Linked DNA regions of Homo sapiens: region 2 is linked to region 1. Evidence: fine-mapped expression QTL. Tissue or cell type: whole blood. Region 1 holds a variant in brackets; the other region holds the start of a gene. All regions are shown on one strand. Distances are between the middles of the regions.

Evidence for each region. PIP is the estimated chance that this variant, and not a neighbour inherited with it, causes the effect.
Region 2: it holds the start of SEMA3B, and the variant in region 1 is fine-mapped to the expression of SEMA3B in whole blood (TOPMed, PIP above 0.99).

What each region holds. Positions count from the first base shown.
Region 1 is chr3:50,141,775-50,149,234 of GRCh38, forward strand. The region is part of intron 1 of SEMA3F-AS1 (SEMA3F antisense RNA 1); the gene reads right to left. Among named protein-coding and RNA genes, the nearest start is that of SEMA3F, 9.8 kb to the right of the region's middle. The variant C/G (reference allele first, on the strand shown) is at 3,459.
Region 2 is chr3:50,266,088-50,272,482 of GRCh38, forward strand. SEMA3B (semaphorin 3B) reads left to right here and starts at 3,060. Exons shown (of 17, transcript NM_001290060.2): 1 at 3,060-3,262; 2 at 4,040-4,197; 3 at 4,346-4,408; 4 at 4,803-4,922; 5 at 5,001-5,094; 6 at 5,274-5,393. The coding sequence starts at 3,154. It overlaps SEMA3B-AS1 (SEMA3B antisense RNA 1), which reads right to left and starts at 1,284. Exons shown (of 2, transcript NR_110702.1): 1 at 1,194-1,284; 2 at 554-800.

The sequences.
Region 1 (7,460 bases):
GACCTTGTGATCCACCCATCTCGGCCTCCCAAAGTGCTGGGATTACAGGCATGAGCCACCGCGCCCGGCCCTTCCTTCCTTCCATCCTTCCTTCCTCTCTTCTTTTTCTTTCTTTCTTTTTCTTTCTTCTTTCTTTCTTTTTCTTTCTTCTTTCTTTCTTTCTTTCTTTTCTTTCTCTCTCTTCCCTCATTCCTTCCCTCCCTCCTTCCTTCCTTGTTTTCTTTCCTTTTCTTTTCTTTCTTTCTTTCTTTCTTTCTTTCTTTCTTTCTTTCTTTCTTTCTGTCTCTCTCTCTCCCTTCCTTCCTTCCTCTTTCTTTTTTCTTTTTTTTTTTGACAGAGTCTCACTCTCTCGCTCAAGCTGGAGTGCACTGGGCTCACTGCAACCTCTGCCTCCCAGGTTCAAGCAATTCTCCTGCCTCAGCCTCCCGAGTAGCTGAGACTACAGGCGTGCGCCACCAAGCCCAGCTAATTTTTGTATTTTTAGTAGAGACAGGGTTTCACCATGTTGGCCAGGCTGCTCTTGAACTCCTGACCTCAGGTGATCCACCTGCCTCGGCCACCCAGAGTGCTGGGATTACAGGCGTGAGCCACTGCGTCTGGTCTCTCTCTTTCTCTTTCTGTCTCTTTCTTTTTCTTTCTTTCTTTCTTTGTCTCTCTCCTTCCTTCTTTCCTTCCTTCCTTCCTCCCTCCCTCTCTTCCTTACTTTCTCTCTCTTTCTTTCTTTCCTTTCTTCCTTCCTTCCTTCCTTTCTTTCTCTCTTTCTCTCTTTCTTCTTTCTTTCATTTTTGAGAAGGATTCTTGCTCTGTCCCTAGGCTGGAGTGCAGTGGTGCAATCTCGGCTCACTGCAACCTCTGCCTCCCGGCTTCAAGCAATTCTCCTGCCTCAGGCTTCCAAGTAACTGAGACTACAGGTGCCCACCACCACACTCAACTAATTTTTGTATTTTTACTAGAGACAGGGTTTCACCATGTTGGCCAGGCTGGTCTTGAACTCCTGACCTCAAGTGATCTGCCCACTTCTGCCTCCCAAAGTGCTGGGATTACAGGTGTGAGCCACCACGCCCAGCCCCAGCCTCATGATTCTGATGTTTGGGTAGGTCGAGTAAGGCCTGGTGAGGTCTGAAGAGCCCTGTGGACAGCAAGGCCAGAGCTGCAGGGCTTCCACCTCTGCCCAGGCTCCACACTTCTTTTTCTTTTTCTTTTTTTGAGATGGAGTCTCGCTCTGTCTCCCAGGCTGGAATGCAGTGGCGCCATCTTGGCTCACTGCAAGCTCCGCCTCCTGGGTTCACGCCATTCTCCTGCCTCAGCCTCCCGAGCAGGTGGGACCACAGGCGCCCGCCACCACGCCCGGCTAATTTTTTTGTATTTTTAGTAGAGACAGGGTTTCACCGTGTAAGCCAGGATGATCTCGATCTCCTGACCTCATGATCCACCCGCCTTGGCCTCCCAAAGTGCCGGGATTACAGGCATGAGCCACCGTGCCCGGACTTCTTTTTTTTTTTTTAAGACGGAGTCTCACTCTGTCACCAGGATGGAGTGCAGTGGCGTGATCTCGTCTCACTGCAACCTCCACCTCCTGGGTTCAAGCGATTCTCCTGCCTCTGCCTCAGCCTCCCAAGTAGCTGGGACTACAGGCATGTGCCACCACACCCAGCTAATGTTTTGTATTTTTAGTAGAGATGGAGTTTCACCATGTTGGCCAAGATGGTCTCAATCTCTTGACCTCATGATCCACCTGCCTTGGCCTCCCAAAGTGCTGGGATTACAGACATGAGCCACCATGCCCGGCTTAGGCTCCACACTTCTGAGAGGCTCAGGTTTCCCTAGATGCCAGGCCCTTTTCTGCCTGGAGTCTATCTCCCAGCCCTTACAGGACCTCTCCAAGGTGTGGGGTCTGGGTGGAGCCCGGGTCCTTAGGCATTCAAATTCCCCTAACTCTAGGCCATCAAAATCTCCCCTTCTGCCTTTCTGAGGTGGCTCCCATCTCTCAGCTCTAGGCCTGTAGGCCTTGCCTACCACTATTCCAAGACAATTTTGTTGAAATTTCAGGCCAAATTGGGGTGGAGAAATCAGTCTCTGTGGCTGGTGCCAACACAGGGTTGGGAGGACATGAGGTTGCAGAATGAATGAATGACATCTTTTTTTTTTTTTTTTTTTTTGAGATGGAGTTTCCCTCTTTTTGCCCAGGCTGGAGTGCAGTGGTGCAATCTCAGTTCACCACAACTTCCGCCTCCCGGGTTCAAGAGATTCTCCTGTCTCAGCCTCCCGAGTAGCTGGGATTATAGGCATGTGCCACCACGCCCAGCTAATATTTGTATTTTTAATAGAGACGGGGTTTCTCCATGTTGGCCAAGCTGGTCTCGAACTCCCGACCTCAGGTGATCTGCCACCTCAGCCTCCCAAAGTGCTGGGATTACAGGCGTGAGCCACCACACCCAGCATGAATGAATGACATATGACCAAGACACAGTGCATTTGAACCAGGCCAGAAGGACCAGGAGAACCCCGCTAGGGAGACAGGGAAAGGCATTCCTGGTGGGAGAATAGCCTAGGCAAAGGCTTGAGGGCAACATGATAGAAGACATGATGAGGGGTGGCCCTTCAGAAACCATAGAGTGACCTGAGGGCCTCCAGGCCCTGAGGTTTGCCTGGGAGCCCCTCCAGAGATCCCCCTGCTGCCTCTGCCTCGGCCACAAAGCAGGCCAACTGTGCTTTGCTTGTTCTGACTCCGACCTTCCACGCAGACCTTTCAGGGCCCCTGTCTCCCTATCTGTCAAGTGGTATCTTTGTCTGCAGTCTGGCCTGTACCGGGTGAGGGTCTCTGCCTGGGAAGATGTGGAGGCCTCATCCTGGGCCTGTGGGGACAGCATGGGTAGGGTTGGGTTCTCTAGAGTCTAGGACCCACAGCCACGCAGTCCCATCTTTCTTGGCGGGGGGTGTCCTTGATCAGTAGGTGACAAAGGGAGCAGGAACTGACACCTGTCCAGACAGCTGGGAGCTCCAAGATTCCCCCCACAATAAGCCCCATTGTGAGAAAACTCTAGGAGCAGCTAGGGGGATGTTCAGGGATTCAACACAGAATTTCCTCTAAACTCTGGCTGGTGGCAGGGCTCACATGTCTTGTGTCCCCACCTCAGCCCAGCCCACATGTTTTCCTCTTCCCTACCTGAAAGCCACAGGGTGGTAAGGGTCCAGCCTGGACACCGAGCCAGAGATCTAAGCAGGCCAAGGCCCCAGCACTGGGTCCCCTCTCTGAGCAACTAAAACTCCAGCAAGAAACACCCATGTTGTTGAGAGAATAGGCCCCAGCCAGCACTACCCGGCCCCTCTCTGGAGAACTGGGCCCCCATAGCATAGCCTAGGCCCAACCAGACCCCTGGCTGGGAAACGTGGGTTTCCTGAGGCTATGGTCAACCTAGGGCCTTGGGGTGCTGCCTAAGGTCCCATCTTTGGCCCCC[C/G]CAGCAGGTTATGACCCCTCTTGGTCTGGGGTCCATATGTCCTTGGCTATAGAGGGTACTGACCGCTGGGCACACTCAGCTGGTGGGGCAGCTGGGGCAAGGGAAGGGTGAAGCCTCAGGCAGTCCAGGGAGGGAAGCTGGGGCTGAGCAGGTGATCTGTGGGACCTGTCCCTCAGGGGAATCTGGGAGTGGCAGACCAACCCTGGCCTGGCTCCACCCTCAAATCCAAGCACTGAGACTGGGGGGTTAACACAGCGGGGGTGAATTTCCTCCTGGTTCCAGCCAGTCAGATTTCCACATGCCTCCCCTTCCCTGGGCAGGAGCCGGGCGCACAGAGAGAAGAGGAGCACTGAGGACTGCAGAGGGGAGTGGGGTGGGAAGAGGCTAGGCAACCCGCGGAGGAAGATGGTCCTGGGGGTGCTTTAAAAAAAGACAAGGCGGCCGGTGCAGTGGCTCATGCCTGTAATCCCAGCACTTTGGGAGGCCGAGGTGACAGATCACTTGAGGTCAGGAGTTCTAGACCAGCCTGGCCAACATGGCAAAAATCCATCTCTACTAAAAATACAAAAAATTATCTGGGCGTGGTGACACACACCTGTAATCCCAGCTATTCAGGAGGCAGAGGCAGGAGAATCGCTTGAACCCAGGAGGCAGAGGTTGCAGTGAGCCGAGATCACACCACTGCACTCCAGCCTGGGCGACAGAGCGAGACTACGTCTCAAAGACAAAAGAAAAGAGGCTGGGCGCAGTGGCTCATGCCTGTAATCCCAGCACTTTGGGAGGCCAAGCAGGTGGATCACGAGTTTAGGAGTTCAAGACCAGCCTGACCAACATGGTGAAAACTGGTCTCTACTAAAAATACAAAAATTATCTGGGCTTGGTGGCGTGCACCTGTAATTCCAGCTACTCGGGAGGCTGAGGCAGGAGAATCGCTTGAACCTGGGAGGCGGAGGTTGCAGTGAGCCGAGATCGTGCCATTGCACTCCAGCATGGATGACAGAGCGAGACTCTGTCTCAGAAAAAAAAAAAAAAGAAAGAAAGAAAGAAAAAAGAAAAGACAAGGCAGAGGGGCACAGGCCTCAGTTTCCCCTCAGGGACTATGAGGACTCCAAATGTCAGTGGTAGAGGGAGGGTGGTTGTCTCCCTCTGTAGCAGCATTGCCCCTCTGTGCCCTCTACTGGTGTCCTGGGTAACCTGGACCTGTCAAGGGCTGGGCCAGCCAGGGCTGCTGCTTGAGCCCAGAGACTTCCCTGCGAGCTGTGACCATGACTAAGGTAGGGCAGGGGGTGGTACACAGTAGGTGCACAGGCAGGTTGTGGCCACATGAATGCATTCCTCTGGGTGGCAGGAACTAGGTTTCCCTGATTTAGTCTGTGGATGCTGGAGCCAGGCAGGACAGAGTGTGAAGTCTGGATTTATGACCTCTCCCCATGCAGCCCTCCGCAATCCCTTCCTCACCCCTCCTCTGTCTCTTATCCCTCCATCTAGGTTGGTCCCTGCTCCTTCTGGCAGCAAACATGGGCTTTGCAGAAACTTGTCCTGGGATTAAATCTTAAACTGCTGTCTCAGGAGAGTGGGGGAGGGAGACCTACCCAGTGAGCCATGTGTCTGGGGTATATAGAAGCCGGGGAGGAGGCCTCTCTCCCCACCTCAAAACTCCAGATCAGGCCCAATGGATGGGCTTCTAGGGAAGGAGGAGGGAACCTGGCCAAGTCTGAAGGTACCCGGCAGCAGCCCCCGTGCTCTAGGCAGACCCTGTTCTTTCTCTCCTGGATATTCACAGCCTCCTCTCTGGCACCCCAGTAGCCAGGGGGATGTTTTAAAACCTGAAATCTGACTATGGCATATGCCCCATCACCCTCAAGTCAGCCGTTGTCCTTTATTCTTTCAGAGGTTGCAGTCCAACATTCAAGGGGGTCCTAGCCTGGAATCCCCAATAAGGTCATCCAGGCCCTTACTCCTCAAGGTCTCGGCATTCCCCTCTATTAAATGGGTACACAATGATGTTCCAGTCAAGGTGAGCCTGAGGCCTAATTCTTCGCGGGAGTTCACAGATAGCACCGGTGAAGCCTCCAATCCCTGGGTGAAGGGTCAGAAGTCAGGATTGGCCAAGGCCCCCACTCTGCCCAGTCACGTTTGAAAATCAAATCCTAACAGCACAAGAAGGCACCGAAACCCCAGGATAGGAGCACAGACTTGGCCTCACTGACCTACCAACCACAACACAGGGAGCAAAAGGGTTCATCTTTCTAGATGGAGTGCTCAGGAGCAAGCACCAGGCTGGCCAGGGCAGGCCTGGCTCCCCACCCACCTGGTACTGGCCCTGCTTCCCCAACCCTCCTCCAAGGCACTGAAGCCATGTGCTGTAAAGAGGAGATTCTCTGGAGGGAGCACTCCTCATTGGCCAGTCCGGGCACTGCTGTGCACAGAGGTCTTGCTGGTGAAGCCTCTCCAGTTCCTGGCTGGAGGAAGCTGGAGACCAAATAGGATGCTCTGGCCTCAGATCTCTGGTCTGAGATATGAGACAGTGATCTCATATCGCAACTCCTCCTTGGGCATGACCTGGAACCAGGCTTAGGGAGGAGGACCAGGATGACAGGGTGCCCAGTGTCTGCCCACCAGCCCCCCCTCCTTTTGAGGGGCTGCTTTCATCTGGGCCCCACTCCTCTGCTGGGAGCAAGGAACTAGGGGAGGCCACGCCACCGCTGTCATGGAAGGGACATTCCCCAGTCATTTGGAACTAAGTAAGTCCAGATCTCAGCTTGCAGTCCTGGCTGCAGGACCCTCCTCGGGCCCCCCTCCCCCAGGACTGTGGCCACACAGACACATGGAGGGAGTGTGCGCAGCAGATGCAGGCCTGGGAGGCAGCCAGAAACCTCCCAAGATCAGAGCCTGTCACCGCAGCTTTGTCAGGGAGCTGCCTAGGTCTCTCCTAGTCCTGAGGAACACCTCTGCCTAAGGGACTATGCCTGTCCCTGGAGAGCTCACGGTTAAAGCTGCAATGCCTTTTAAGTTAAAGCAGAGTCTATCTTGAGTCCTTGATGCTGCAACTTAAGACCCTCTCTCCTCCATCCACCTCTTCAGCAGTGTGGGGAAACAGCAAATGGGCATCTCTCCATGCCCCATTCTCAGCTCCAGGTAAGGGTGAGAGGGGAAAGCAGCTCACAGCCCCATCGAGTTATTCATTCAATACCTACCACGTGTCTGTCTCCATTCTGGGTGCTGGAGGAGGAGCAATAGATAGACAACAATCTCTGCATTCTTGGTTGGCAGCTTAGCATGAAAATAAGTAAATTATATCGTATGTTGGAATAAGAAAAAGAGAGGGAAGGTAAGGGAAGAAGAGAGGGAAGGTAAGTGGAGATGCAGAATGCTGGAGATGGTGGTGGTCAGGATGGGCATCACTGAGGAGGTAATATCTGAGCAAAGGCCTGAAGGAGGTGAGGGAGAAGCCATGGAGGTGTCTGGGATGGGCATCCAGGCCAAGGGAACGGTTGCTGCAGGGCCCTGAGGCTGGAGTGTGCCTGGAGTGGGAGGAAGAGGGAGGAGGACACAAGTCAGAGAGGTGGGGAAGAGGTGTGCAGGGTGAAGGGGTGTTGATGACCACTCCAAGGATTTGGCTTTGTTTTCTGTTTTAGTTTTTGGTCAAGATGGAGTCTCACTCTGTGGCCCAGGCTGGAGTGCAGTGGTGCAATCACGGCTCACTGCAGCCTCAACCTCCTAGGCTCAAGCAATCCTCCCGCCTCAGCCTCCAGAGTAGCAGGGGCCACAGGCACATACCACCACACCCAGCTAGATTTTTGTAGGTTTTTTTTTTTTTTTTGTGACAGAGTCTTGCTCTGTAGCCCAGGCTGCAGTGCAGTGGCGCAGTCTTGGCTCAATGCAATCCCCGCCTCGCGGGTTCAAGCAATTCTCCTTCCTCGGCCTCCTGAGTAACTGGGATTGATTACAGGCGCAGGCCACCACATCTGGCTAATTTTTGTACTTTTTGGTAGAGATGGG
Region 2 (6,395 bases), 120 kb after region 1:
AAACAGAGACAGGGCCCCTGGGCCTGGAAAAACATAAGGCAGTGAGGGCCTATGGGGGCACAGTGGGAGTGGATGGGAGCCTCTGAGGCACTTGCTGATCCTGGCTGCTTGGGTGGAAAGCTGTAAACAGCCAAAGAATGTTGTCTGCTTGCATGGAGCCAGGAGAGCCTGCCCAGGTCCTCTAAGGCTAGAGGCAGCTACTCCTGGAGTAGGAAAAGGCCACATCCAGGAAGCCCACGAGCCCAGGCAGGGATCTGTCCTTCCACTTGCCCTCCTGAAGGGCCCTGCGGCTCCCACTGGCCCCTGTTATTTACCTGCCAGCTGGCCAGGCCAGGCCAGGTATACCAGGTCCTCAGGCTCAGGAAGGAGGGGCATAGCCCCACTTCCACTTCCAGGGGACTTGGAGATGTGCCCCCCACCTCTGTCCTTGCTTGGCTGGAGGCATCCAGGGCTGGGCAACAGAACTGCAACACTTGAAATGCCCACACTGCCCCATCAGCCTTGGGAGGTGGTAGGAAAATGCCTTTTGCGGGGATGGAAGGATCAAAGCCCATTCTCAAGCCCTGGTATATTCACTCAGGTGGACTTCAGGGCTCCACTCTGCCACTGTCAACATACAGTCCCTCCAGAGAAGTACCCCTCATGTTACAAATGGGGCACGTTCACCAGACTCAGCTTCAGGACAAGACCCCAGGTCATTCCCAACTGAGGCTCCGAGGTGCAGGAGCTCCGTCCTGTCTGTAAAACTCCCTCAGTTTTCGGCTCTGGGTTTGGTGGGGGTTGTTCCTCCCACCTCCAACCTAGAAAGAGAAGCCAGAGGAAGGGAGGTCACATGGTCTGCCCCCCAACCTCTCAGCAGAGATGCAAAGCTACCTGTCCAGGATGGCGGACTCCAGATGGGCCCCGCCCTGTGGTGCAGAAGTGAGATTTGCTGCTCCTCCTGCGTCTGCCCCTCTCCTGCCCTCCTCTCCCTCCCCTATCTGGCTGTCATGGTAGAAGCCACTGCTGGCCAGGCCACTGAAGTACTAAGTGGCCCAAGTGTTGAGGAAGGATGGGGACTGGGTCCTGAGGGCCCATCCGACCTCCAGTTGAGAGCCCCTCCCCTGACCTCCAGCTGCCCGGCCACCCCAGCCGGTCCCTGGGAACTGAGGTGGCAGCTGAGCTCCCCATTATCTTTCCCCACAGCTCCCCACCTGTGGAGGGAGAGGTTGAGATATTGGAGTCCACGGGTGGTGCCCCCACTCAGTGATTCCCTTTGCCTGCTGAGCCCCTGGAGCTGGGGTTTCTTCCTCCCTTGCCTTGGCTGGCCACCTGGCTTCTGGGACCGCCACCTGGGGCACCCTTCTGCTTTAAGGCCCAATATGGGAGGGGTCGTCCCTACCAGCCCCTCCCTTGTGCCCATTCCACTCCCGCCTGGCTGCCGTCTCCAGCTGGTCCCGGCTGCCTGCCCGGTCACCCGATCCGCCCTCTAAACTTTACGGCACGGCGGGCGGTGCGTGGGGCGGTGGCTGGCCTGGTGGGGGCGGGGGCTGCTTCTTAAAGGAGCCGTCAGAGGGTCCCCAGCGGCCCCAGGGTGGGAAGGGGCCAGAGTGGAGAGATGCTGCTGCGGAAGTCCTCGGTGGAGTGTGAGAAGGCAGCCAGTGTTGGCCTGGAAGACCTCTAGAACCTGAGAAGAGGCAGCGGCAAGTGTCAGCGGAGGGAAGGAGGGAGGTGGGGGTCCTGGCCTGGGATGGGGCCAGGAGCTGGGCAGGAGTGTGGGTGGAGGGGCCTGGAACCTGCCTCAGCAGCTGCTCCACTTGCTTAATCCCACCTGGAACCTTGTCCCACTCCCTGGGCTCCTGTGTCCAGCACCTGCCCAGCTGACCCCTGGGAAGGAGGGTGGGCATAGCAGCCAGGTCTTTGCCCCAGCTGAGGGCCAGGGGGAGGTGTCTGGCTCCTAGAGTGAAGGGGCTCAAAGATGGGGAAGAACTCAAGGGGTGAGAGAAGTGAAGGGAGAGGCTCAGAGAGGCTGTGGAGGCGTTGAGAGGGAAGGCCAGCTCAGCGAGGCCAGGAGGCTGGGGTGCAAATGAAGGGCTGCCTCACCTTGCCCCTCTTTGATTCCTCAGGGGTGTGGAGAGAGAGCCCTCAAGCTCAAATGCAGAGGCTGCTTCAGCTGGGTTGGGAGCAGTCCCCAAGTCAGAGGCTGAGGCTTCTGCCCAGGTCTTGGGTCTCCTGGGTAGCACTTCTCCCTCTGAGGAATGGAGTGATTGATGCTGCAGTTGGATTTGCTCACTTGCATGCCCAGAGACATGTCTATTCTTATGGGTGCACACGTTTGCACATGCACAAATGTGCAACACATCTGTGTGCAAAATATGCACATATCACACATATGTACTGCATGGATTGCACAGTGCCACATGTGTGTGCACACCAACCCATATCCACACATGTGCAATATGACACACTATATATTTGCACATAGATGTGCACACACATGCACATACACACTACACACATGCGCACATCACAAGGGGACACTCGGAAACACATTCACAGGCACCCACACCCTTGGCTCCAGCCTCAAAAGTGTCTCTGTGTTTTTCTGCGGGACTGTGGGGACACTGCCACCTCCAGAGGCCTGACCCCCTCCTGTCACTCTCACTCTTTTGACTGGCTTGTTTTGCTCATTGCACTTGGCACCCTCTGCATCCATCTGATTCCTTGTTGGCACTCTGTCCCCTTTCACATGGGGACCTTGTCTATGTCTCCCAGTATCCCTCCTCCCAGGTCTAGGCTGGCATGAAGTGGGTGGCACATTGTGAATTAATGTCTGTGAGTGTGTATACAAGAGAGGAGATTACTGGGAAGGGTGACGTGGTGAGGCGGGCTTGCCAGTGCAGGGTGACCCTGAGGGTGTGCCCAGTGGCGTGGGTGTGTCTGTGATTGTGGCCAGGCGGGGCACCCTCGGAGGGGAGGGTTCGGAAGTGGAATGCGACCCCCCAGCCTCTTTCCCCTAGGGGCTGTAATCTGATCCCTGGGGACTCCCCCCCTAGCCTCCCGCCCTCGCCCTCACTGCTGACTCCTCTTCCAGATCCTGGGGCAGAGTCCAGGGCAGCTCAAGGCTCCTCCACACACACACCCGCTGAACCCTGAGCACCCTGAGCTGCTGAGATGGGGCGGGCCGGGGCTGCCGCCGTGATCCCGGGCCTGGCCCTGCTCTGGGCAGTGGGGCTGGGGAGTGCCGCCCCCAGCCCCCCACGCCTTCGGCTCTCCTTCCAAGGTAGGTGCACCTGGCAGGCGGGAGGGCCCAGCTTGAGGTGGGCAGGAAAGGGTCCCCGTATGGCCAGGGGGCTCTGTGTTGGCTGTTGCCCCATGTGCGTGCCTGTCACCAGACTCTGGTAGGATTAGTGGGCACTCTCAGGCCACCTCCAGTTAACCCTGTCCGGGCCTCAGCCCCCAGCCTCTGCCCACATTCTCTTCGTGCTTTCTCAGGAAGACCCCTCCTGTCCCCACAGCAACAGACCTTGTCTCTGTTCCGTTCAGTACCCCCAACAAGGCGATACTCCTTCAGCAGAGCAACAGGGAAGTCAGAGCCCCCTTCTCATGCCTCCTGTATAGGAGGGTGGCCCCTGGGCAGTGGCAGTGAATAGGCAGTTCTGCTGAGCTCAGGCTGGTGGTGGAGTGGCAGGAAAGGAACTCTCAGCCTGACTTTTGGGAGTTGGGGTTCTGGCCATCCCTGCATGCCAGTCTCCCCCAGGACTCTGGTGTCCATAAGCCTTGCCTCCCAGTGCGCCCGCCTGGAGACACCACCTGTCTGAGCATGCCCAAGTTCAACCTGCCTTCCTCTTCCTGGGGGGATGTACCACCTACCCTGGCAGCTCCACACGTGCACCTGGGTGGGCTTGGGTTTGCGTGTGTAAACTCACACACATGTAAACTCACATGTGTACAGGCCAGGTCCTAATGGCAACCTTGGCCGATAGAGTCACCACCAGGCAGGACCTGGGGGAGGCTTCCAGCATGGCTGGCGAGTCATCAGCAGTGTCCTGCCCTGCAGAGCTCCAGGCCTGGCATGGTCTCCAGACTTTCAGCCTGGAGCGAACCTGCTGCTACCAGGCCTTGCTGGTGGATGAGGAGCGTGGACGCCTGTTTGTGGGTGCCGAGAACCATGTGGCCTCCCTCAACCTGGACAACATCAGCAAGCGGGCCAAGAAGGTGCCAGGGACTCCCAACCCCAGCACTCCCCAGGGAAGGAGCCCTGGGACCCCACTCCAGCCTGGAGAGACCCAGAGGAATGGCTCCCTGAGGTAGAGAATATCCCAAGTTCCTGACCTGTGTCCCCTCTCCCCCAACCTCCCGATAGCTGGCCTGGCCGGCCCCTGTGGAATGGCGAGAGGAGTGCAACTGGGCAGGGAAGGACATTGGTGTGAGTGCCAGCTGCCCGGGCCGGGAGTGGGGAGGGTCAGCCCCTCACCCCAGAGACAGGGCAGGGCTAAAACAGAGGCCTGCCTGTTCTGGCTGGGATGAGGGCAGGGAGGTCGAGGTGGCTGAGGTCTGGGGGTGGTGAGTCAGGGTGGGGGCTCGTGTAATTCTTCTGGGGTGCCTCTGAGTCATGGGAGGCTTTGCAGGCCTGTGCTTCCCCAGACACCCACCCTCGTGAGGCCTGGGCTGGTCAGCAAGGGCCCCCAGGTCCCTGTAGCCCATGTTAGTACTTGCCTGGGCTGATGCCGAAGAGAGGGAGGGGTGAGGATGCCACTGGTGAGCTGGGACCTCTTAAGGCTACGTCCCTGGGGGAAGCCTCACACCTCCAACCCTACTAGACTGAGTGCATGAACTTCGTGAAGTTGCTGCATGCCTACAACCGCACCCATTTGCTGGCCTGTGGCACGGGAGCCTTCCACCCAACCTGTGCCTTTGTGGAAGTGGGCCACCGGGCAGAGGTAAGGCCGGATCTAGGCAGGGAGGGAGGTCAGGAGGGTAAGAAGGGCCTGGTAGTCACAACTTGCCACACCTCCCAGGAGCCCGTCCTCCGGCTGGACCCAGGAAGGATAGAGGATGGCAAGGGGAAGAGTCCTTATGACCCCAGGCATCGGGCTGCCTCCGTGCTGGTGGGTGAGTCCAAGGGCTAAGGCCCCAAGAGAACCCCTTAGAAACTCTAGAACCTCACAAAGTCCCAAGACCCCCAAGAGCTCCAGGGAATCCCCCATAACCTCACTCACTCCCAGAGCTCCCCAGGCCCTCCTGCCCCAAGAGCCCTCCATTTGCCTGAGTGGCCCTTGCTCTGTCTGCAGGGGAGGAGCTATACTCAGGGGTGGCAGCAGACCTCATGGGACGAGACTTTACCATCTTTCGCAGCCTAGGGCAACGTCCAAGTCTCCGAACAGAGCCACACGACTCCCGCTGGCTCAATGGTGAGAGGCTGGTGGGGTTGGTGGGTAGAGGTCGTCACCCTCCCACAGGGCAGGTGCCAAGCAAGGCCCATAAAGTAAGTGAGCAGTGGGTGTGGCCAGGTCTTACCAAATACCCTCCTTAATCAGGCACTGGCGTCACAGAGACAGACAAGACAGGTATGACCGTGACCTCTTTGAGTTCACAGATCACATACATGATAAGATCAAGTCCAATGGCCTTGAGGCCAGAGAGAGACAAGGGAGGAAGGGAAAAGGAGACTGGGTGGCTGGAGGGGGTTGGGTAAAGGAAGCCGCTGTGCTGAGGGGAGTATGAGCTAATTCCCAAGCACAAGACAGCTAGCCAGCAAAATTTAGGGATGAGCATTCCAGGCAGAGGGAGCATTCCAGGCAGAGGGAGCAACTAGTGCAAAGGCCTGGATGCAAGAACAAGCAAAGGAATAGACTTGCAGAGCTAGCAATGAAAAGGGGGCCTGGACTGTCAGGGGCCAGAGTCATTTATTCTAAGAGTCATGGGGGCTGGGCACAATGGCTTGCACCTGTAATCCCAGCACTTTGGGAGGCTGAGGCAGACAGATTGCTTGAAGACAGGAGTTTCATACCAGCCTGGGCTACAAAGCAAGACAAAAAATAAAATAAAATTAGCTGGGGGCAGTGGCATGCACACACCTGTAGTCCTGGCTAGTCAGGAGGCTGAGATGGAAGGATCACTTGAGCCCAGGAGTTGGAGGCTGCAGTGAGCCATGATGCTGCCACTGCAGGACAGAGCAGACCCTGTCTCTAAATCAAATAAAAATTAAATAAGGGCTATGGGCTGGTGGGCACAGTGGCTCACACCTGTAATCTCAGCACTTTGGGAGGCGGAGGCAGGCAAATCGCTTGAGGCCAGGAGTTTGAGACTAGCCTGGCCAACATGGTGAAACCCTGTCTCTACTAAAAAATACAAAAATTGGCCGGGTGCAGTGGTGTGCACCTGTAATCCCAGCACTTTGGGAGGCTGAGGCG